Linked DNA regions of Homo sapiens: region 1 is linked to region 2. The links come from fine-mapping of genetic effects on plasma protein levels. A gene starts in region 2. The other region holds a variant in brackets. All regions are shown on one strand. Distances are between the middles of the regions.

Region 1 (12,407 bases), 12 kb after region 2:
GGTTTTTGTCTTTGGTTCTGTTTATATGCTGGATTACGTTTATTGATTTGCGTATGTTGAACCAGCCTTGCATCCCAGGGATGAAGCCCACTTGATCATGGTGGATAAGCTTTTTGATGTGCTGCTGGATTCAGTTTGCCAGTATTTTATTGAGGATTTTTGCATCAATGTTCATCAAGGATATTGGTCTAAAATTCTCTTTTTTTGTTGTGTCTCTGCCAGGCTTTGGTATCAGGATGATGCTGGCCTCAAAAAATGAGTTAGGGAGGATTCCCTCTTTTTCTACTGATTGGAATAGTTTCAGAAGGAATGGTACCAGCTCCTTCTTGTACCTCTGGTAGAATTCGGCTGTGAATCCATCTGGTCCTGGATTTTTTTTTGGTTGGTAGGCTATTAATTATTGCCTAAATTTCAGAGCCTGTTATTTAAGGATTTAGGGATTTAACTTCTTCCTGGTTTAGTCTTGGGAGGGTGTATGTGTCCAGGAATTTATCCATTTCTTCTAGATTTTCTAGTTTACTTGCATAGAGGTGTTTATAGTATTCTCTGATGGTAGTTTGTATTTCTGTGGGATCGGTGGTGATATCCCCTTTATCATTTGATATTGTGTCTATATGATTCTTCTCTCTTTTCTTCTTTATTAGTCTTGCTAGTGGTCTATCAATTTTGTTGATCTTTTCAAAAAACCAGCTCCTGGATTCATTGATTTTTTGAGGGTTTTTGTGTCTCTATCTCCTTCAGTTCTTCTCTGATCTTAGTTATTTCTTGCCTTCTGCTAGCTTTTGAATGTGTTTGCTCTTGCTTCTCTAGTTCTTTTAATGGTGATGTTAGGGTGTCAATTTTAGATCTTTCCTACTTTCTCTTGTGGGCATTTAGTGCTATAAATTTCCCTCTACACACTGCTTTAAATGTTTCCCAGAGATTCTGGTATGTTGTGTCTTTGTTCTCATTGGTTTCAAAGAATATCTTTATTTCTGCCTTCATTTTGTTATGTACCCAGTAGTCACTCAGGAGCAGGTGTTTCAGTTTCCATGTAGTTGAGTGGTTTTGAGTGAGTTTCTTAATCCTGAGTTCTAGTTTGATTGCACTGTGGTCTGAGAGACAGTTCGTTATAATTTCTGTTCTTTTACATTTGCTGAGGAGTGCTTTACTTCCAACTATGTGGTTAATTTTGGAATAAGTGCTATGTGGTGCTAAGAAGAATGTATATTCTGTTGATTTGGGGTGGAGAGTTCTGTAGATGTCTATTAGGTCTGCTTGGTGCAGAGCTGAGTTCAATTCCTGGATATCCTTGTTAACTTTCTGTCTCGTTGATCTGTCTAATGTTGACAGTGGGGTGTTACAGTCTCCCATTATTATTGTGGGGGAGTCTAAGTCTCTTTGTAGGTCTCTAAGGACTTGCTTTATGAATCTGGGTGCTCCTGTATTGGGTGCATATATATTTAGGATAGTTAGCTCTTCTTGTTGAATTGAGCCCTTTACCATTATGTAATGACCTTCTTTGTCTCTTTTGATCTTTGTTGGTTTAAAGTCTTTTTTATCAGAGACTAGGATTGCAACCCCTGCCTTTTTTTGTTTTCCATTTGCTTGGTAGATCTTCCTCCATCCCTTTATTTTGAGCTTATGTGTGTCTCTGCATGTGAGATGGGTCTCCTGAATACAGCACACTGATGGGTCTTGACTCTATCCAATTTGCCCGTCTGTGTCTTTTAATTGGAGCATTTAGCCCATTTACATTTAAGGTTAATATTTTTGTGTGTGAATTTGATCCTGTCATTACGATGTTAGCTGGTTATTTTGCTCGTCAGTTGATGCAGTTTCTTCCTACCATCAATGGTCTTTACAATTTGGCATGTTTTTGCAGTGGCTGGTACTGGTTTTTCCTTTCCATGTTTAGTGCTTCCTTCAGGAGCTCTTTTAGGGCAGGCCTGGTGGTGACAAAATCTCTCAGCATTTGCTTGTCTGTAACGGATTTTATTTGTCCTTCACTTATGAAGCTTAGTTTGGCTGGATATGAAATTCTGGGTTGAAAATTCTTTTCTTTAAGAATGTTGAATGTTGGCCCCCCACTCTCTTCTGGCTTATAGAGTTTCTGCTGAGAGATCCGCTATTAGTCTGGTGGGCTTCCCTTTGTGGAAAACCCGACCTTTCTCTCTGGCTGCCCTTAACAGTTTTTCCTTCATTTCAACTTTGGTGAATCTGACAATTATGTGTCTTGGAGTTGCTCATCTCGAGGAGTAACTTCATAGTGTTCTCTGTATTTCTTGAATTTGAATGTTGGCCTGTCTTGCTAGGTTGGGGAAGTTCTCCTGGATAATATCCTGTAGAGTGTTTTCCAACTTGGTTCCATTCTCCCCATCACTTTCAGGTACACCAATCAGACGTAGATTTGGTCTTTTCACATAGTCCCATATTTCTTGGAGGCTTTGTTCATTTCTTTTTACTCTTTTTTCTCTAAACTTCTCTTCTTGCTTCATTTCATTCATTTCATCTTCCATCACTGACACTCTTTCTTCCAGTTGATCTAATCGGCTACTGAAGCTTGTGCATTCGTCATGTAGTTCTCGTACCACGGTTTTCAGCTCCAACAGGTCATTTAAGGACTTCTCTACACTGGTTATTCTAGTTAGCCATTTGTCTAATCTTTTTTCAAGGTTTTTAGCTTCTTTGAGATGGGTTCAAACTTCTTCCTTTAGCTCGGAGAAGTTTGATCATCTGAAGACTTTTTCTCTCAACTGATCAAAGTCATTCTCCATCCAGCTTTGTTCTGTTGCTGGTAAGGAGCTGCATACCTTTGGAGGGGGAGAGGCGCTCTGATTTCTAGAATTTTCAGCTTTTCTGCTCTGTTTTTTCCCCATCTTTGTGGTTTTATCTACCTTTGGTCTTTGATGATGGTGACCTTTGATGATGGTGGGGTTTTGGTGTGGATGTCCTTTCTGTTTGTTAGTTTTCCTTCTAACAGTCAGGACCCTCAGCTGCAGGTCTGTTGGAGTTTGCTGGAGGTCCACTCTAGACCCTGTTTGCCTGGGTATCAGCAGCGGAGGGTGCAGAACAGCGAATATTGCTGAACAGCAAATGATGCTGCCTGATCGTTCCTCTGGAAGTTTTGTCTCAGAGGGGTACCCAGCTGTGTGAGGTGTCAGTCTGTCCCTACTGGAGGGTGCCTCCCAGTTAGGCTACTCGGGGGTCAGGGACCCACTTGAGGAGGCAGTCTGTCCATTCTCAGATCTCAAACTCCACGCTGGGAGAACCACTACTCTCTTCAAGGCTGCCAGACAGGGACATTTAAGTCTGCAGAGGTTTCTGCTGCCTTTTGTTCAGCTATGCCCTACCCCCAGAGGTGGAGTCTACAGAGGCAGGCAGGCCTCCTTGAGCTGTGGTGGGCTCCACCCAGTTCGAGCTTCCCGGCCGCTTTGTTTACCTACTCAAGCCTCAGCAATGGCGGGTACCCCTACCCCAGCCTCGCTGCTGCCTTGCAGTTCGATCTCAGACTGCTGTGTTAGCAATGAGTAAGGCTCCGTGGGCGTGGGACCCTCCGAGCCAAGCTCGGCATATAATCTCCTGGTGTGGCATTTGCTAAGACCATTGGAAAAGTGCAGTATTAGGCTGGGAGTGACCCGATTTTCCAGGTGCCGTCCGTCACCACTTCCCTTGGCTAGGAAAGGGAATTCCCTGACCCCTTGCCCTTCTCGGGTGAGGCGATGCCTCACCCTGCTTCGGCTCTCGCTCAGTGGGCTACACCCATTGTCCTGCCCCCACTGTCCGACAAACCCCAGTGAGATGAACCCAGTACCTCAGTTGGAAATGCAGAAATCACCTGTCTTCTGTGTCGCTCACGCTGGGAGCTGTAGACTGGAGCTGTTCCTATTCTGCCACCTTGCCTCATAATCCTTGCCTGTGACTCTTGACACACTGTCCCCCAACTTCCTTGGCTGCCTTTCCCCATTCTCTCTGCCCATCTAAACATCTTTCTTCCTCAAAGGACCAGGCCAAATGCCATTTCCCCAAGAAGCTTTCCTGACTCTTCTAAATCTCCATCTGCTCTTTCCCTTCTCTGAGATCCTATGTCTGTGCCACTCATTTGGCATCATTCCAATCCCTCCCCACCCCCCCAAATTTATTGAGTGCCTACTATGTGCCTGGAAGGGTTCAAACATTGGGGAAGCAAAATGGCTTGACTAGGAGAGATAAGGACAACATGGACCGATCCTAAGAAAAAGAAACAGTAGCAGAAAAAGAGCAGGGCAGCTAGCTGAATTTAAGTCTGCAGTGTGGCGAAAATGCCAACAAAATATTGCGAGACATGAGTGGCAATATGACATACCATGGCCAGAAATTATCTTTTTGGATTCTTTCTACATGAACCCAGATCCTTATTGGAATATTACGTCCAATTTCAAACTAAATGTGGAGAGGATCCGGCAGAAAGTAACAAACAATAACAAAAAGGATGCTAAACCAGGCAGCTCAGAGAACAGAGGAATGGGGAGCCAAGATGTTTTAGATGGGCCAAATGATTTTGAGGCCTTTGGTAATGATCCTCTGTGGCTTTGAGGTGTTTCTGTTTCTTTGTTTTGAGCTAGTCATGGCCATAAATGCCTTCTACATCTGTAGGCGACCAAACTGGAGAAAATAATCTACATGTAAGCAGGATAAATTTTGATTGTGTTTAAGGAAGCATTTTTTTTGTGTTGAAGCTGGAAAAGGTGACTTTCAAAGAAGGTTGCAAATTTTTATTGCCTGATGCTTTAAGAAGAGAAGAGACAAATCCTGTTTGGGGAAAACAGAGATTTCTCTGCCTGAGAGTAAGGGACTATGGTGGAATCCCAGGCAGTCCACGATTCTAGGACCTGAGGCGTTAAATGTCACTGCCACTGGCTGCCACTCCCCTGCCCTGCCACACTGTCCACCAGAACCACTAACGAAGTTACAAAAGTCACCCTTTTCAGTTTCTATTTCATTTTCCCTGTCCCCTGAGAAACAGGAACCAAGGACTAGGCAGTAGGAGAAGCCAGACATGATCTATGCTTTCAAAGTGGGTCACCATGGCGTGAATGAATTAGAGCTGAAGGGTCATGGAAACAGCCTGTTCCTCCTCCCTCTCTCCTCCCCAGCTCTGTCCCCCACTTCTTCCTTTTTTTGTATTATTCTGAAAAGTGAATCAAACAGTTGCCATTTTTTTTATATTACGTTGGTCCACAACGTCAAAGGTCATGGTTTCCAGATTTCGGAAAAGGAATTTGATTCTGTTCCTAAAATTAAAGAGAAATTGCAAGGCTTGGATGGAAAGGGGAAGTTCCCCTTCAATAACTCTTTCTAGAAGGGTCAACATTTAAAACTTAACGTGTGGCCGGGTGCAGTGGCTCACGCCTGTAATCCCAGCACTTTGGGAGGCCAAGGAGGGTGGATCACTTGAGGTCAGGAGTTTGAGACCAGCCTGGCCAACATGGCAAAACCCCATCTCTACTAAAAATTTAAAAATTAGCTGGGCATGGTGGTGGGTGCCTGTAATCCCAGCTACTCCGGAGGCTGAAGCATGAGAATCGCTTGAACCTGGGAGATGGAAGTTGCAGTGAGCTGAGATTGAACAATTGCACTCCAGCCTGGGCAACAGAGTGAGACTCTGACTCAAAAAAAAACAAACAAACAAACAAACAAAAAAAGTTAACCTTATGTAGATATTTACCTATTATTTGAATACGAGAAGGAATTTGACCACTTGAGGGCCTGATTTATACAAGTACCACATGATGAAGAACAGGATTTTATGGAGTGAAGATCCTTAACAGCACTCTCAGATTGAATCTCTCCTGAGCCTTGAACTGATTTCTCCAGTGGCCACTGGGGTTGCGTGACTCCTCCAATGGCCCCAGACACAACTAAGAAATGTGCCTAAACTGGCTGCCATTTGAAACCTTTTGGTGTCCTTTGTTTAGATGCCCCACCCTAAACTTCAGGAGTTCTCTCCAGAGAGTAATTTTAGGAATGAATGCCAGAGACCAAGGGATGAGGGACTGTTGCCTCATCAGAGGGGGAAGGAGCTTGCTGGAAAAACAAGAGGAACAAAATGTCCCCTGACTAGATTTTTCTTTACCTTTTGTCTCAAGGACTCTTCTAGAAATAGAAATAAGAGTAGATTCATGTACATTTGCCCAGGTTGACCCCAGTGGAGGAATTGTGGGGCAGAAAGAATGATAACATGAAAGAAAGATAATTTCAGTAAGGCCCCCCAAACTTTTGGTTTAGGGAGCAGTCACTTTTTGTTTCCTAGAAGCTGTATTTTCACCTACTGAGATTCTAGCAGGCAGTGAAGTCCCCTTAGGATGGGACCGTGTGCAAGAGCATTGCTGTTTCATTGTAAACCCTGGAAGCGGAACTTAGGACTCAGCTGGCCAGCTGAGCTTCT[C/A]TTCCTGTGGGAAATCCCAGCGAAACCAGGAGAAAGGGAGCAACAGAGGTCATCTGCCAGGAAATGTACCAAAGAAGATTTGAAAATTACTGGTGGATCTCCAGAGCAAAGGCTGGAAAGCCCTGACCTACAGGAGCGGGCTACTGCATTGTTGGGAGGAGCAGGATTCACATCCACATGGACTTCCCTCGGGTCTCTTTCTGCTCTGCAGAGAGGGGTGGAAGCTGCTCCTAGGGTTTTTTTTTTGTTTTTTGTTTTTTGTTTTAAGATGGAGTCTCGGTCTGTCGTCCAGGCTACAGTGTAGTGGCACGATCTTGGCTCACTGCAACCTCTGCCTCCCAGGTTCAAGCGATTCTCCTGCCTCAGCCTCCCGAGTAGCTGGGATTACAGGCATGCACCACCATGCCCGGCTAATTTTGTATTCTTAGTAGAGAGGAGGTTTCACCATGTTGGCCAGGCTGGTCTTGAACTCCTGACCTCATGATCCGCCTGCCTCGGCCTTCCAAAGTGCTGGGATTACAGGTGTGAGCCACCGCACCTGGCCACTCCTAGGTTTTAAAACACCGGTTTGTATCCACTTATCTCTTTTGCTCCTCTCCATATAGTCTCCCATCTCTACCTCTTGCTATATTTGATTCCTGCCTGCTTGTTAGAATTACGGTGCATATCTTAGATTTTTCTTTAAATACCACTTTTAGACTGTCATCAACAAGAGGCTTAAGGCTCTTTGGGAGTGGGATATAGAATATTTATTTATTTATTTAGAGACAGGTTCTCACTCTATCACCCAGGCTACTGTGCAGTTGTGTGACCCTAGCTTATTGTAACCTTGAACTCTCAGGCTCAAGCAATCCTCCTGCCCCAGCTTCCTCAGTAGCTAGGACTACAGGTGTGCACCACCACACCTGGATAATTTTATTTATTTATTTATTTTGTAGAGACAGGGTCTCACTTTATTGCACAGGCTGGTCTTGAACTCCTGGGCTCAAGTGATCCTCCCACCTCTGCCTCCCAACGTACTGGGTTTATAGGCGTGAGCTGCGCCCAGCAAATATTTTAAAAATTAGACTCAGGAGGTTCAAATCTTTCATAGGTGTTTAGTCTATCATGTCATTTCAATTTTTTTCTAAGTGACAGTAGAAGGAATGGAAGAAGTCCTGGCTGGGAGTTCAGAGGGCATGGGCTCCAGGCCCACTTCTCTCCATGTGTGAAACTGAGTTATATAAACTCTGAGTAACTGTCTTCACTGGCCTCAGCTTCCTCCCTAGAAAGTTATTGTCAGCTGGGCACGGTGCCTAATGCCTATAATCCCAGCACTTTGGGAGGCTGAGACAGGTGGATCACTTGAGGTCAGGAGTTCAAGACCAGCCTGGCCAACATGGTGAAACTGCCTCTCTACTAAAAATACAAAAATTAGCTGGGCGTGGTGGCGATCGCCTGTAATCCCAGCTACTTGGGAGGCTGAGGCAGGATAATTGCTTGAACCTGGGAAATAGAGGTTGCAGTGAGCTGGGATTGCACCACTGCCCTCAGGCCTGAGTGACAGAGCCAGACTCCGTCTCAAAAAAAAAAAAAAAAAGAAACTTATTGTCAACTGAAAATTCACAAGGTTTATAAATCTGGAAAAGAGAGCTTTATTTTTATAAAGGGTTGCAGACGGCAGGATGGCCATTCTCAGTCTGGGAAGTGTAGCCTTCCAGCCAGAAGCCAAAAAGAGGCACCTCCAGGGAAAGGCAAAGGGAACAGGAATGTATGCTGAGCAGAGCAGCCAAGTACACATATTTATTTATTTATTTATTGAGACAAGGTCTCACTCTGTCACCCAGGCTGGAGTGCAGTGGCACAATCTCAGCTCACTTCAACCTCCACCTCCCAAGTTCAAGCGATTCTCGTGCCTCAGCCTCCCAAGTAGGTAGGATTACAAAAATACATGTATTTAATAAACTATAGGAGGAGTCATGAATATTTATGAAAGGAGAAACATGTGCATGTGCAACTGAGCGTCATGCCCCTTCAAGAGTCCCTTTTACAAAAAATGGCAGCATTAGCATGATCTGAGGGTGGAGTTCTCGGCCCTCTGATGTTAAAAGGTGAAGCAGAGGACACAAAAACCCTCACTGCAGGTCCTCTGTAGGCTGGCCAGAACCAATCTGTGATTGGTGGTCTCTTATCAGGGCAGAATGATGGTCAGTTGTGTCAAAACTGCAAAAGGAAGGGACAGCAGTCACGTGGTTGGTTGAAATCAGCGGTGAAGTCTGAGCCTGTTTTCCTTGATGAGCTGATCTTCTGGATGCCGTCTCTGAACACCCTGACTGAGCTGATACCATTAACTCTCTCATAGTTGCCAACCATGTACCTTGAACATTCTCTGCTTCCATACTCCTCACGGCCTCGTGCCATTATACTGTACAGTGTCTTCTCTCCTTGTGTGATTTTTGCCCTACCTCTGTAGGTGCAAGAAGCGCCAAGCATGTGCTTGGCTGGCACATTTTGTTTATTTATTTATTTATTTTTATTATTTTTCAGTCAGAGTTTTGCTCTTGTTGCCCAAGCTGGAGGAGTGCAATGGTGCAATCTTGGCTCACTGCAACCTCCGCCTCCCAGGGTCAAGCAATTCTCCTGCCTCAGCCTCCCAAGTGGCTGGGATTACAGTCACCCGCCACCATGCCCAGCTAATTTTTGTATTTTTAGTAAAGAAGGGATTTCACCCTGTTGGCCAGGCTGGTCTTGAACTCCTGACCTCAAGTGATCCGCCCGCCTTGGCCTCCCAAAGTGCTGGGATTACAGGCGTGAACCACCGCGCCAGACTGGCTGGCACATTTTAGATACTGTATTAGTCAAGTTTCTTCTGAGAAACAGAACCAATAGGATGGACACACACACACATGCAGAGAAAGAGAGTTTACTTTAAGGGATTGGCTTATACAATTGTGGAGGCTGGCAGGTTCGACAGGGTAGGCCAGCAGGCTAAAGACCCAGGAAAGAGTTGCAGCTCGAGTCTAAAGGCAGTCTGGCAGAATTCTCTCTTCCTTGGGGGAGGCGAGTCTTTTTTCTATTAAGGCTTTCAACTGATTGGAATGAGGCTCATCCACATTAGGGAGAGTAATCTGCTTTACTCAAAGGCTACTGATTTAGATGTGAATCTCATCTTAAAAAATACCTGCACAGAAACATCTAGAACAATGTTTGACCAAATATCTGGGCACTGTGGCCTAGCTAGGCTGACAAAATTAGCCATCACAGATGCTCTCTAAATCTTCTTGAATTGAATTGACAACACAGGATATGTGAGCAGCTACTTTTGGTTACTTATCTTCAAACTCATCAAGTTGTATACCCGAAATATGTACAGCTTTTTGTATCTCAGTCATATCTCAATAACGTGATTTAAGAAAACATATAAACACTTTTTTGGTAATTTTAAAAATATGTTAGCAGCCGAAAAATGAGATCACTTGGGTGCTCTAGAAGAGCAGGGGCTGTCAGGGCCTAGCATATACTTACACAGCAGGTATTCAATGTCTGAAGAATGTATAAAGATCATTCTTGTAAGTGACCAGTTTGTTAAGAACAGTGTCATTGTTCCGACCTTATAGATGAAGTGTCTGAAATATCTTAAGATCAGGTCCGAGGGCTACAAGTTTATTTCTCAGCAACAGCCTCAGCATAGCAATTGATTCTGTATTGGTGAGTAATGAAGATGCCTATGATGTGTCTTCCTCAATAAAACTAAGAGCAAGGAACCAACTATGCAATATATTTGTCTTTCCAGGACCTATACTAATGCCTAGCACCTAGTAAGATGCCAAGTAACTATTTGTTCTTCTTGGCAGAACAACATTCACTGTTTCCTTTGCAAACAAACCCTGATTTTTGTAAAAGAACCTACCTCTACCTCTCAGGGAAGATGTGTCTATCCTTGATCTAAGGGAAACATCATAATCCAGCCTGCCTGCCAGGAATTGGTTTAGACTTCTGGAGGATCTTTGAGAATAGTTTCTTCATCTTGAAAGAAGAAACACTCTCTTTTTCCACTGGACACTGTCTATAACTGTAACTGCAATGTGTTATTATGCATACACATTATCTTGACTGCCTAGTTAAATAATCAGAGCTAAACAAAAATTTTCGAAGAAATTAACAGTAAATGGTTAATAGGCAACGCCTCTTGGGCTCGCTAGCAGACACAAAATAGCAAAATGGTTTAAACAAAAACAAACCGAAGGATAAGACCTCTATATACATTTGATAAAATAAATTAAAATGGGGAAAATATGATCTTGTGCCAATTAAAAACGTCAGTCTGGGGATAAAAATAACTGAAGATAGTAGGTCAGAAAGATAAGAAGAACAGGGTCTTTCTTTGATGATAGTATACAGTTGCTAAATTAACCCTGGGACTTCTTACCTTTAGACATTTTGTTACATAAGATAATAAGTGCCATTATTATTTAAGCCCAGTGAGTATGTGGTGTTTTGGGGGTGGGGAAGAGTGATGGTTATTTGCCGTTATTTGGAGCTGGAAACATGCTAACTGATAAATTATCCTTTTGGTTTATAGGACAATGTCCTTGATGCCCAAAAACATTTTCTAATTTTGACAGAAGAGAAAGGATGTCAGTAGGTGTTAACTAATGTGAAAAGAAGGTAGAATGGCTCATGTGTGTGATGGAGATGAGAACTGGGAATACAGAGAGATATCTGACCTGGTAGTAATTTTTTCTTGCATGACTACTACATTGATAAGCACTGTGCTAAAATTTTTCAATTAATTATTTCATGCAATCTTCAAACCAACTTTATGAAATATGTACTATTATTTTTCCTACTTAATAACAGAAAGTGAAGCTTAGCAAGATGAAGTGACTTGTCTAAAATCACTTACTCAAGCTAGTGTTTTTTGTTTGTTTGTTTTGTTTTGAGATGGAGTCTCACTCTGTCGCCCAGGTTGGAGTGCAGTGGCACGATCTCAGCTCACTGCAACCTCCGCCTCCTGGGTTCAAGCAATTCTCCTGCCTTGGCCTCCCGAGTAGCTGGGATTACAGGCACCCACCACCATGCCCGGCTAATTTTTTATTTTTAGTAGAGACAGGGTTTCACCATGTTGGTCAGGCTGGTCTCGAACTCCTGACCTCATGATCCACCTGCCTTGGCCTCCCAAAGTGCTGGGATTACAGGCGTGAGCCACCGTGCCTGGCCCCCAAGTGTTGTTACAAGGGTTTGAAACCAGATAGCGTGGATGTGTCGGGAGTCTATGCTAATGGTCACAAAGTTCATAGGCACCATAAAGTTCAAAGCAAACTAATTGCTAACAACCCCAGTTTTTCTGTTTGTTTTTGTTTGTTTGTTTGTGTTTTGAGACAGGGTCTTGCTCTGTCGTCCAGGCTGGAGTGCAGTGGCACAATCTCAGCTCACTGCAACCTCTGCTTCCTGGGCTCAAGCAGTCCTCCCACCTCAGCCTCCTGAGTAGCTCAGACCACAGGCGCATGCCTGGATAATTTTTGTATTTTTTGTAGAGAACAGGTTTCACCATGTTGCCCAGGCTGGTCTCGAACTCCTGGTCTCAAGCAATCTGTCCCCCTTGGCCTCCCAAAGTACTGGGATTACAGGTATGAACCACTGTGCCCAGCCCCAGTTATTCTTTACATTTAAGTCAAAAACGAAAACAAAAAATCACCCTTTCCCATGGATTCTCACAGAAAGATCACTACATAATATGAACAATATCCTCAGCAGACATCTTAAGCTGAAACTGTGTTGAGTTTTATCGGGATGCTTATTATTCAAAATGTCTCTTACTACAGAACTTGCTTTGACTGCATCCTCAGAGGCTGAAAATCTTTGACAGTTGAAAGAATGAAGGATGTGCCATCCCCAAATATGCCATATAATATATTGATTACTTTGAGTTGAAAACATTAGAGAAATTATAGTTTCAGAAAGGGTAAAACTGAGGGCTGACCTGATTAGGCCTGACACTTAATTTGCCTTGCTTGCTTTT
Region 2 (9,683 bases):
GAACACCTCTGCCATGGTGTGGCAGGAGAGGAAGGCCTAGTGTGGCAAATCTCTGCCCTGAATAAAGCCCTCTATAATCCTACTCCACTGTATTCACTGAATCTCACCTCCCACAGACCATGCACACTCACACCTACACTCCCGTTGAGCAGTCCTCACTAATTTTACATGGTACACACTCTCCAACCCATCAACTTCCTTCTGATCCAATTCTTTTCATTAAAGACATCATCAGTTACTGTAAGTTACTGAAATAACCTCCTAATAGGTTTTGCACAGTCACTGTGGCTGCCCTACAAGCCACTCTGTTCTTCAGTAACACTTTTTTCCTTTTAAAGTTATTTACACCTTTACTACTGAAACTCAAAGTGTATGGTGGAGCAGCATCAGCATCACCTAGGTGCTTCTTAGAAATGCAGAATCTCAGGCCCCATCCCAGACCCACCTAAGCAGAAACAGCATTTAAAAAACTATATAGACTTTATTTTTTAGAGCTGCTTTAGGTTCATCGAAAAATTGAATGTAAAGTAACCCCCTCCCCACATATTCACAGCTTCCGCCACTGTCTACATCCTGCGCCAGGGCAGTACACTTGTTACAATCAATGAACCTACATTAACACATCATTACCACCCCAAATCTAGAGTTCACGATAGGGGTCACTCCTGGTATTGCATATTCTATGGATTTGGGCAAATTTATAATGACTTATATCTATCATTACAGTATTATGCAAAATAGATTCACTTCTCTAAAAAATTCCCTGTGCTAGAAACTGCAATTTAGCAAAACCCCCAGGCTATTGGTATGTGTAAAGAGTGAACAGAGCTGGGGTAGACCACGCCACTCTCCTGGGTAAAGCCCTTCCAGCTTCCTGAATAACATGCGGATTCATGATTATAACTCACAAGTGCTGCAGGGTCCGGTTCTTGCTCACTGGGCCAGTCCCTCCTCTGCTACTTCCCAGCTCACTGCCCCTTCTTGCTGGCAGAGGAAGACAGCACTTCCTCAGGCAGTGCCTGTGCCCTGCCTTCAAAGCACGTGGCTTTGTTTGTTGGCCACACTTTAACACATTCATTTGAGTGGCTATTGGATTACTTTTCCTCTTTCCAATGATAGTAAATTTCACAAATGCAAGAGCCATGTCCCCAGGACCAAGAAAAGTCTCTTGGTTTTAGGAGATGCTCATGTTTGTTGAATTAATAAATGATTAAACAAAAGAATGAACACCTGTGCCAGCCTCATCCTTACCTTTGTGCCTTTGTCCAGGCTGTTGCCCTGACCAGAATTCTCTCTCCATCATCCATCTGCCTCTGTAAAGCCTGCCCTCCTTCCTGCAGCCCAGTCTGTTACCCACTTTCCCAGATCTTGGGCTCCTACAATCAGGGCAAAGCATTTCATTGCTCTTTGCTTGTTCTACATGGGTTAGCTTTGCATTTCCGCAACTAACATATGCAGACCTCTTTGAGTGCAGGAATCCTAGCCTCAACTTTTATGGCCCACCTGGCACACAGTAGGTGCTTCATTGACTCAGTCACAGCAGCAGTAAAACCAGGATGTAGCTAGAGAACAAGGTGCTTTCCTAAACATCTTTCTTTAGCTCAAAGATCTCTTTCCACTTACCTCTGACCCTAATTTTCCTTGTACAATTTCTAAAGTCTGGGTTTTAATTTTTATTTTATGTCCTCTTTTACTTTTTTTATTGTTCTCCCTCTTTCTGTCTCTCCCCCTCCCTGCCCCCCTTATTTCTGGGAAGCCTGTACAAATTTCCTTCTATATATTTTAAACTCCTCTGTACTCCCCAGAAGACTAGTTTGGGAATGCTTCCCCAGCTCCCCAGAAGGAAATTGTAACTGTTGGAAATGTAATGTAACTGTCAAATATATAAAAAACCTGAGGTGTAAATTGTGAAATGTAGGCCATGTTTCTCTTGGTTCTGAAACAATGTAAAATAGCTCTGGACAGAAAATTTTAAATGACCACCATCGCAGTCAAGTAATCTGTGGGCCCCCAACTCCTCTTCTCTTCCCTCTACCTCTCTCTCACACCTCTGATATTCTAGGCAGTACTTTATGTGAGAAGTTTTTAAGACAAGGACCCTTAATAGTCGGGTCTTTGCAGACTGGCAAATCATGCTGGAGCCCAAACTTCTTTGTTTTTGGGAAACTGGGAAGTATGCTGCTCACTAGAAAACAGATCTTTTGTTTTCTGACTTAAAAAAAAAAATCAGAACCATCCTGCCAGCAGGGACAAGCCTCACCCTTCTTGACAGTCCCAAAAGTTCAGCACTCTTAAGATCACCTGAGCAGGAACAAAAGCCTCTAGAAGTCAAATTATTACTTTCAGGACATATATGTAATACCTATGTGGCAGATTAAAAATAACTAAAAACATAATTTTGTGTTAAATCTGATACCACTTAAAGTCAGATGCCAATGTTGAAAAAAGATCTCAGCATCCAAAGCAGAACAAATAAGATTAATGTATTAAGAGGAACTTAAGAAGGTTAAGAAGATGAATGTCATTAAGAGGAATTGTCCTCAACTACTCTCCCGCCTTCAGATTGGAAAGAAGATCACCATTGTTCAATTTTAGAAGCAGGACACTTTCGCTGAGCTGTATCATGAAAACATAGTTTGGGACTAGACTCCGAGGCCAGTATCGGCACATCACAAAATGTAAATGAGCATCTAATATTCATGGAAGAGACCATTATGAATCGGCTGTATGGTTTTGTTAAAATAACACTGTCCCTTCCACGCTTCCTTGAAGGCCTGGGTTCTTGAGTTAACTTGGTTGCTAACTTGCTGTGTGATGATAGGCAGGTCCTTTAACCTCTTTGGACCACAGTCTTCTAATCTTTAAAATCTTCTGAAAACACCCTGAAGGTTCCTTCCAGCTTATAGGATAATAGAAGGGAGCAGCTCAGAGAACCCCATGTCCTTTCTCTTAACCCTGTAGCAGTTGACTCAGTTAAGTTCCTGAAAGTTGCTTACCTGAACAGAAGTGAGAAAGACCAGCCAGCACCAAGAGCTGAAAGAAATTGAGGTATGGACACTTGGATGGTGATGTTCCCTGCCTCCGTGTGTGGCCCATGGCTTCAGATGCTTAGGGTCAAAAGTGAAAGCCAACAATTTGGACCCAAGTAAGACCAGGGCACTTCCCAGGTGCAAAACAGGCAGGGCTGATGACAATCCAATTGCTCACGTAGAAGACCCTCCAGTGATGTTTACAAAACACACAGAGATTGGAGGGTGTTCCTGGGTCTCCAAAGGTTGTGGATTTAGTTTCACAGCCTGAAAAAGGAACAAATAAAAGTCATTCAGGAAGGAAGGTGTGCCTACTTTGAGTTGCAAAACTCTCGAGTTGCCTGCTAAAATTAATTGGAGAGCTTAACCTAAGCAACCTCTAAAGCAGGGCGTGACCCTGAGGAAAAGCGAATGGAAATTCTGTGAGGGGACCAGTTCCAAGAACCAACCACAGCCCTTCCATGAAAAGGCTTTCTACTTAATAGGTGGGGTGAAGATTTGGTTAGAAACAGGAGAGCTCTAAGGACCCTCCATATCTGTTAGCCAACCTGCAAAAGTTCAAATCCTCTTCTGAACATACCAAGAAACATAGAGCAGACAGTAAGGGTGTATTTTGTCCAAGGCAGGACCTAAGTTATGAAACAACTTCTTTCTTGACATATTAACATAAGAAAACAAGTATCTCAATTCTTTAAACCCTCTACTCAAATAATATATCATAAAGGGGTATGAGATCTCAATAACCAGAAAAGTCTATCCATAAAAAGGGAGGGAAAAAAAGACACTGCAGACGTTACTTATCAAAATTATGTACTCCAGGGCCAGGCGTGGTGGCTCACGCCTGTAATCCCAGCACTTTGGGAGGCTGAGGTGGGCGGATTACTTGAGGCCAGGAGTTCCAGACCAGCCTGGCCAACATGGCAAAACCCCATTTCTACCAAAAATACAAAAATTAGCCAGGTGTGGTGGTGGGTGCCTGTAATCCCAGCCACTTGGGAGGCTGAGGCACGAGAATTGCTTGAATCCAGGAGGTGGAGGCTGCAGTGAGCCAAGATGATTGCAACACTGCACTCCAGCCTAGGCGACAGAGTGAGACTCCATCTCAAAAAAAAAAAAAAAAAAAATTATGTACTGTCATGTGAGGTGGCTAGGGATTAATTTTTCCAGTAAATATGTCAAAATTGAGAAATGAAAATAAACACTGTGCTCCACTGTCACCCCTTCAGGCTGCTACCAGGACACAGCCCCGTGCTGCTCAGAGAATGCTTGAGTGTCCTCTTTGGAGACCACCCTAGAGCTAGAGTTCCAGCCACGCCATATTGTTTTATTAGCCATCATCCATTTTAGACAGGATTAGTTAAAAGAGACTTATTCACCAGAATTTGTTTTTCTTAAGATAGAATCTTGCTCTGTCACACAGGCTAGAGTGCAGTGGCGTGACCATAGCTCACCACAGTCTCAACCTCCCGAGCTCAAGCGATTTTCCCACTTTCACTAGAATTTTACTGGCTTGAGAAATTCAAATACGGCCCACAAAAACAATATTTGCTAGGATCTAGGATATTTTAAAATAATGGGCCACAATTCTCACTATGATGCTCCAAATATGTCGGGAAGCCACAGCCTCCTGTGGGAATGAGACCCTAAGGGTTCCTTTGAGGGCAAGCCTGGATCCAGGAGGTGGTAGCAGAGGTATTGTTTGTTTAAAAAGCAGTGAGGTTGCTGGTAACTAGTTCTACCAAGCTATCCCATAGTAAGATAATAGTAAATGTACTTACTTGCTGAAGAAAAATTCCACTTTTTCTTTAAATCCTTTGATTTCAGGGTAAGACTCCACTTCTGAGATGTTCTCTTCTTACAGTCTATAAAGCAATGACAAATCACTTTTTCTTTGGGTAATCTTCAGAGAGGCGACATTTCCCCTTCTAACTTCTGTTACTTTACAGAGGGTTTGAGTTCACTCAGTACTTGTCAGTGCCAGGAGTTGGACAGGGTGTTTGAAGAAGCGCCCTCTGCTGCCGTCTTCTTCTAGTTGCTTTTGTAGAGGCTGTGGCTGGGGCAAATCACACAGCAGCCTCCCTCACCACCGTGCATGGACTAACAAACATGAAACACCACGAGCACCAGGCGGCCTAGGGGAGGAGAAGAATGGTGCCCGAGAAGAGTGAGGGGCATCTGGCTAGCCTTGCTGTGTGATGGGAGGCCAGCTTCATGGGCTGGCTGTTTCTGTGCTGGTCTCAAGTTTTGTTTTAGCACCCAGAGTTACTCCTGAGTCCCTGCAGGAATAAGCTGTCAACCTCATATGTAGGGGACACTTTTGGGAGAGTGCTCAGCTCACAGGACCACCCAACTCTACTCCCACCTCTGAATCCCACCATCTTCAGAGAGTGGGCTCCTGCCAGCCACGCTGGACAGTGAATTCTGGTCACCCTAGCCACAGTTGAGTGCGCCTCTGGTGGGATGAGGAAGACTTTAGTCATGCCCATCACTCCCATTTCCAACTAGGTTGCCACCCACCCCTGTGTGTCCCTTTGTAGGATTCTGGAGCCCCTGTGAGTGAGCAGCTGACCCATGCTGGACCAGTGTACTTGTTTGCACAGGTGGAACCTGACAGCACCTTGCATGGGTTGCAGTGAGCCGAGATCACAACACTACAATCCAGCTTGGGTAACAGAGCAAGACTCCATCTCAAAAAAAAAAAAAAAAAAAAGACGCCATCCTTCCCACACCAGCCAGAAAGAGAGCAAACCGTGTGGGTGAGAAATACTGACTACAGCGGCGGCTTCCTTCATCTCAGCAACAAGTTTGTGGCAGAGCTTAGTGGATACCACCCTATTCACCTGAGATTTGGAATACTGAAGCTTTGGAAATCATGAAGGCAGAACTTGCTATGAAAGGACTCCACTGCACTGTCTCCTTCTGTATTGGCAGAAGGGGCCTAGTGAGCACCCTTCTTCACCTGTGTCTTGTTCTGGTCTCAGATGCATATTTTGAATAGTTGCAAGGAATATGGATGTGACAATTCCTGCCTTACCTCTAGTAGATCAACATTACATTTTCAAGTAAAGGGAACATAGATTGGAGGTAAGTTCATGTTTTCTATTTTCTTGAACATTTATTCAGATCAAAGAAATGTTTTCACTGATTTTAGCCACTTCTACTTGATACATTATTACAATGCACTGGAAGTGATTTTTTTTCCAGGTATTTAAAGTAATAGAAAGTTATAGATGTCAACTTAAAAGAGCAAAGAAATACAGAGTTTTAGAAATTTATTTTCTTTTTTTTTTTTTAGATGAAGTCTTTCTCTGCCGCCCAGGCTGGAGTGCAGTGGTGCAATCTTGGCTCACTGCAACCTCCGCCTCCTGGGTTCAAGCAATTCTTCTGCCTCAGCCTCCTGAGTAGCTGGGACTACAGGCGTGTGCCACCATGCCAGGCTAATTTTTAAATTTTTAGTAGAGATGGGGTTTCACCATATTGGCCAGGCTGGTCTCAAACTCCTGACCTTGTGATCCACCCTCCTCGGCCTCCCAAAGTGCTGGGATTACAGGCATGAGCCACTGCACCCAGCCGAGTTTTAGAAATTTCATGAGGGACTACATGAATACAAATTTTGACGATCACAGACACCCTCAAATTTTAAGAATCCCAGTGAAATCCTAACCTGCCTTGGAGAAACACACATTAAACAACTTTGCCATTAGCGCTTTGATGTGACTTAATCAAAGAGGCTGGAAGAAAGGAACACCAGGAAGGTACTTTACAGAGTTTCCCCAATCCTGATTGTAAAATTCAGAAGGCTTCTCTTCCAAGATTATGTACTAATGGGATGTGTTTAATTCCTCTTCCTCCTACAATGTGTCTAGGAGCATGACCTGTGGACCACAGATTTCTAAGGTAAATTTCTGGACACTGGAGGTGAGATGGATGAAGACGGGCAAAGGAAGCCGAACCCGAATACCTATATTACTGGAAAACAAAACAAAACAAAACAAAACCAAGTAAAAGATTTAAAAGGAGGCTGGGCACAGTGGCTCATGCCTGTAATCCCAGCACTTTGAGAGGCTGAGGTGGGCGGATCACTTGAGGCCAGGAGTTCGAGGCCAGCTGGCCAACGTGATGAAACCCCAGCTCTCCAAAAAAAAAAAAAAAACCAAAAAACTGGGCATAGTGGTGCATACCTGTAATCCCAGCTACTGGGAAGGCTGAGACATGAGACTTGCTTGAACTTCAGAGGCGGAGGTTGCAGTGAGCTAAGATTGTGCCATTGCACTCCAGCCTGGGTGACAGAGCAAGATTCTGTTTCAAAAACAAAACAAAACAAAACAAAAAAACTTTAAATGAGTTTGTTCTGAGGAGCAGACCCAGGGTTGGAGAAGAATAAAGCAGGAATTACTGCTCCTCAGTGTAAATTCTTTAGTGCCACTTATTTTTTTGTAAATCCATCCTTGGCTTTACTGTAATAAAAGTAAAAGAAATTCTTTTAAAAATAATTCACATAAAAATTCTTTTAAAAATTTTTATGTGAAAAATTGAAAGGATAAATTTATGAAAGTATATTTTTATAATTCTAGGGTGAGCAAGACACAAAACTTGGAAGCCACGAAAAAAGAAAAGATACACAGATTTGAATTCATAAAAATTAAAAATATTTGTACAATGAAAGACATTATAAATGAAATGAAAACACAATCACAGACTGTAGAGGACCCAGCAGGAAGAGATGACGAGAGGGAGATGCAGCTTTGTCACTCAGAGGTTGGTGCAGAGGCTGTTGCGACACCGTAGGGGAAGCCTGGCCCTTTGCTTTACCCCTGAACAGGATGATCTCTGTGGAAATGAAGGTTCCATCTTTCTGCTCTTGACCTTGGAGCCACTTCACCTCCTCATGCTGATAAAGCTGGCCTGAGCTCAACCTTCCTACCCTTCCGTTCAGCATCCACAGGGAGGGCTGGGCTGGCTCCTGGCAGTGGCCTCAGTGCTGTCATTTGCAGGTTGCCTACTCAGGGCCCACGGTGCTAGCCTGACTGCTGGGAAAACCCCTTTCCCACAGTGGGCTCACTGTTGCCAAGTAAACAAAACCTGTTGCACTGACAAAAATTTTCAGGGGAGTTTTTCATGTTCTAAGATGACCCTCCCGTGAGGTTTAGAAGTTCATTTTTAGATATGACTTCATCTGGGCATGTCTATAAGGCCTGCACCCATCATAGGGCAGCTGATCTAGGCTTTAAGGCTATGGTGCTCCCCAGGAGTGCCACAGCCTGCTAAAGTTGGCAGCAAACTCATCAAAGTGGGAGAGTTCACCTCTTCCTCTTAAAATGCTGTCACATTCTTTCTGGTTCTTTGAGATGGAAATCACCAAAATGCTTAAAATGAAAACAAGTGACTTTCAGAGCTAGCCCTCGTTCAGAGTGAGGGCCGTCTTCTTACTAACCCACCACACACTCTTCCTCCTATACTTGGCATCTTACTCTTCCTGCCTGTGACTCTTTTTTTTTAATTAATTTTTTTATTATCAATTTTTGTTTATTATTCTACTTTAAGTTCTAGGGTACATGTGCACAATGTGCAGGTTTGTTACATATGTATACACGCTCCATGTTAGTGTGTTGCACCCATTAACTCGTCATTTACATTAGGTATATCTCCTAATGCTATCCCTCCCCCCTCCCCCCAGCCCATGACAGGCCCCCGTGTGTGATGCTCCCCTTCCTGTGTCCAAGTGTTCTCATTGTTCAATTCCCACCTATGAGTGAGAACATGTGGTGTTTGGTTTTTTGTCCTTGTGATAGTTTGCTGAGAATGATGGTTTCCAGCTTCATCCATGTCCCTACAAAGGACATGAACTCATCCTTTTTTCTGGCTGCATAGTATTCCATGGTGTATATGTACCACATTTTCTTAATCCAGTCTATCATTGATGGACATTTGGGTTGGTTCCAAGTCTTTGCTATTGTGAATAGTGCCACAATAAACATACGTGTGCATGTGTCTTTAGAGCAGCATGATTTATAACCCTTTGGGTATATACCCAGTAATGGGATGGCTGGGTCAAATGGTATTTCTAGTTCTAGATCCTTGAGGAATCGCCACACTGTCTTCCACAATGGTTGAACTAGTTTACAGTCCTGCCAACGTGTAAAAGTGTTCCTATTTCTCCACATCGTCTTCAGCACCTGTTGTTTCCTGACTTTTTAATGATCGCCATTCTAACTGGTGTGAGATGGTGTCTTATTGTGGTTTTGATTTGCATTTCTCTGATGGCCAGTGATGATGAGCATTTTTTCATGTGTCTGTTGGCTGCATAAAAGTCTTTTTTGAGAAGTGTCTGTTCATATCCTTTGCCCACTTTTTGATGGGGTTGTTTTTTCTTGTAAATGTGTTTGAGTTCATTGTAGATTCTGGATATTAGCCCTTTGTCAGATGAGTAGATTGCAAAAATTTTCTCCCATTCTGTAGGTTGCCTGTTCACTCTGATGGTAGTTTGTTTTGCTGTGCAGAAACTCTTTAGTTTAATTAGATCCCATTTGTCAATTTTGGCTTTTGCTGCCATTGCTTTTGGTGTTTTAGACATGAAGTCCTTGCCCATGCCTATGTCCTGAATGGTATTGCCTAGGTTTTCTTCTAGGGTTTTTATGGTTTTAGGTCTAACAC

Which allele goes with the higher level. Positions count from the first base shown, and alleles are read on the strand shown. Strength reflects both the effect of a copy and how common the allele is.
With allele C in place of A in region 1, the plasma level of the protein whose gene starts at base 4,982 in region 2 is higher (moderate association).

Evidence for each region. A credible set is the group of variants that fine-mapping cannot tell apart. PIP is the chance, under the fine-mapping model, that this variant and not a neighbour inherited with it causes the effect. Protein levels are from antibody-based Olink assays in UK Biobank. Linkage for the fine-mapping came from a reference panel and not from the study's own genotypes, which makes the PIPs less certain.
Region 1: its variant is the best candidate, but not a certain one, in a credible set for the plasma level of the CD80 protein (UK Biobank, PIP 0.54).

What each region holds. Positions count from the first base shown.
Region 1 is chr3:119,565,434-119,577,840 of GRCh38, forward strand. No RefSeq gene overlaps it. Among named protein-coding and RNA genes, the nearest start is that of ADPRH, 7.9 kb to the right of the region's middle. RefSeq lists an enhancer at 2,969-3,470. The variant C/A (reference allele first, on the strand shown) is at 6,407.
Region 2 is chr3:119,554,633-119,564,315 of GRCh38, forward strand. CD80 (CD80 molecule) reads right to left here and starts at 4,982. Exons shown (of 7, transcript NM_005191.4): 1 at 4,808-4,982; 2 at 2,997-3,296. The coding sequence starts at 3,096. It overlaps LOC107986118 (a long non-coding RNA gene), which reads left to right and starts at 5,798. Exons shown (of 2, transcript XR_001740861.2): 1 at 5,798-6,113; 2 at 7,604-7,694. RefSeq lists a silencer at 3,290-3,584 and enhancers at 3,290-3,584, 3,946-4,105, 4,376-4,435, 5,206-5,255, 7,737-8,326.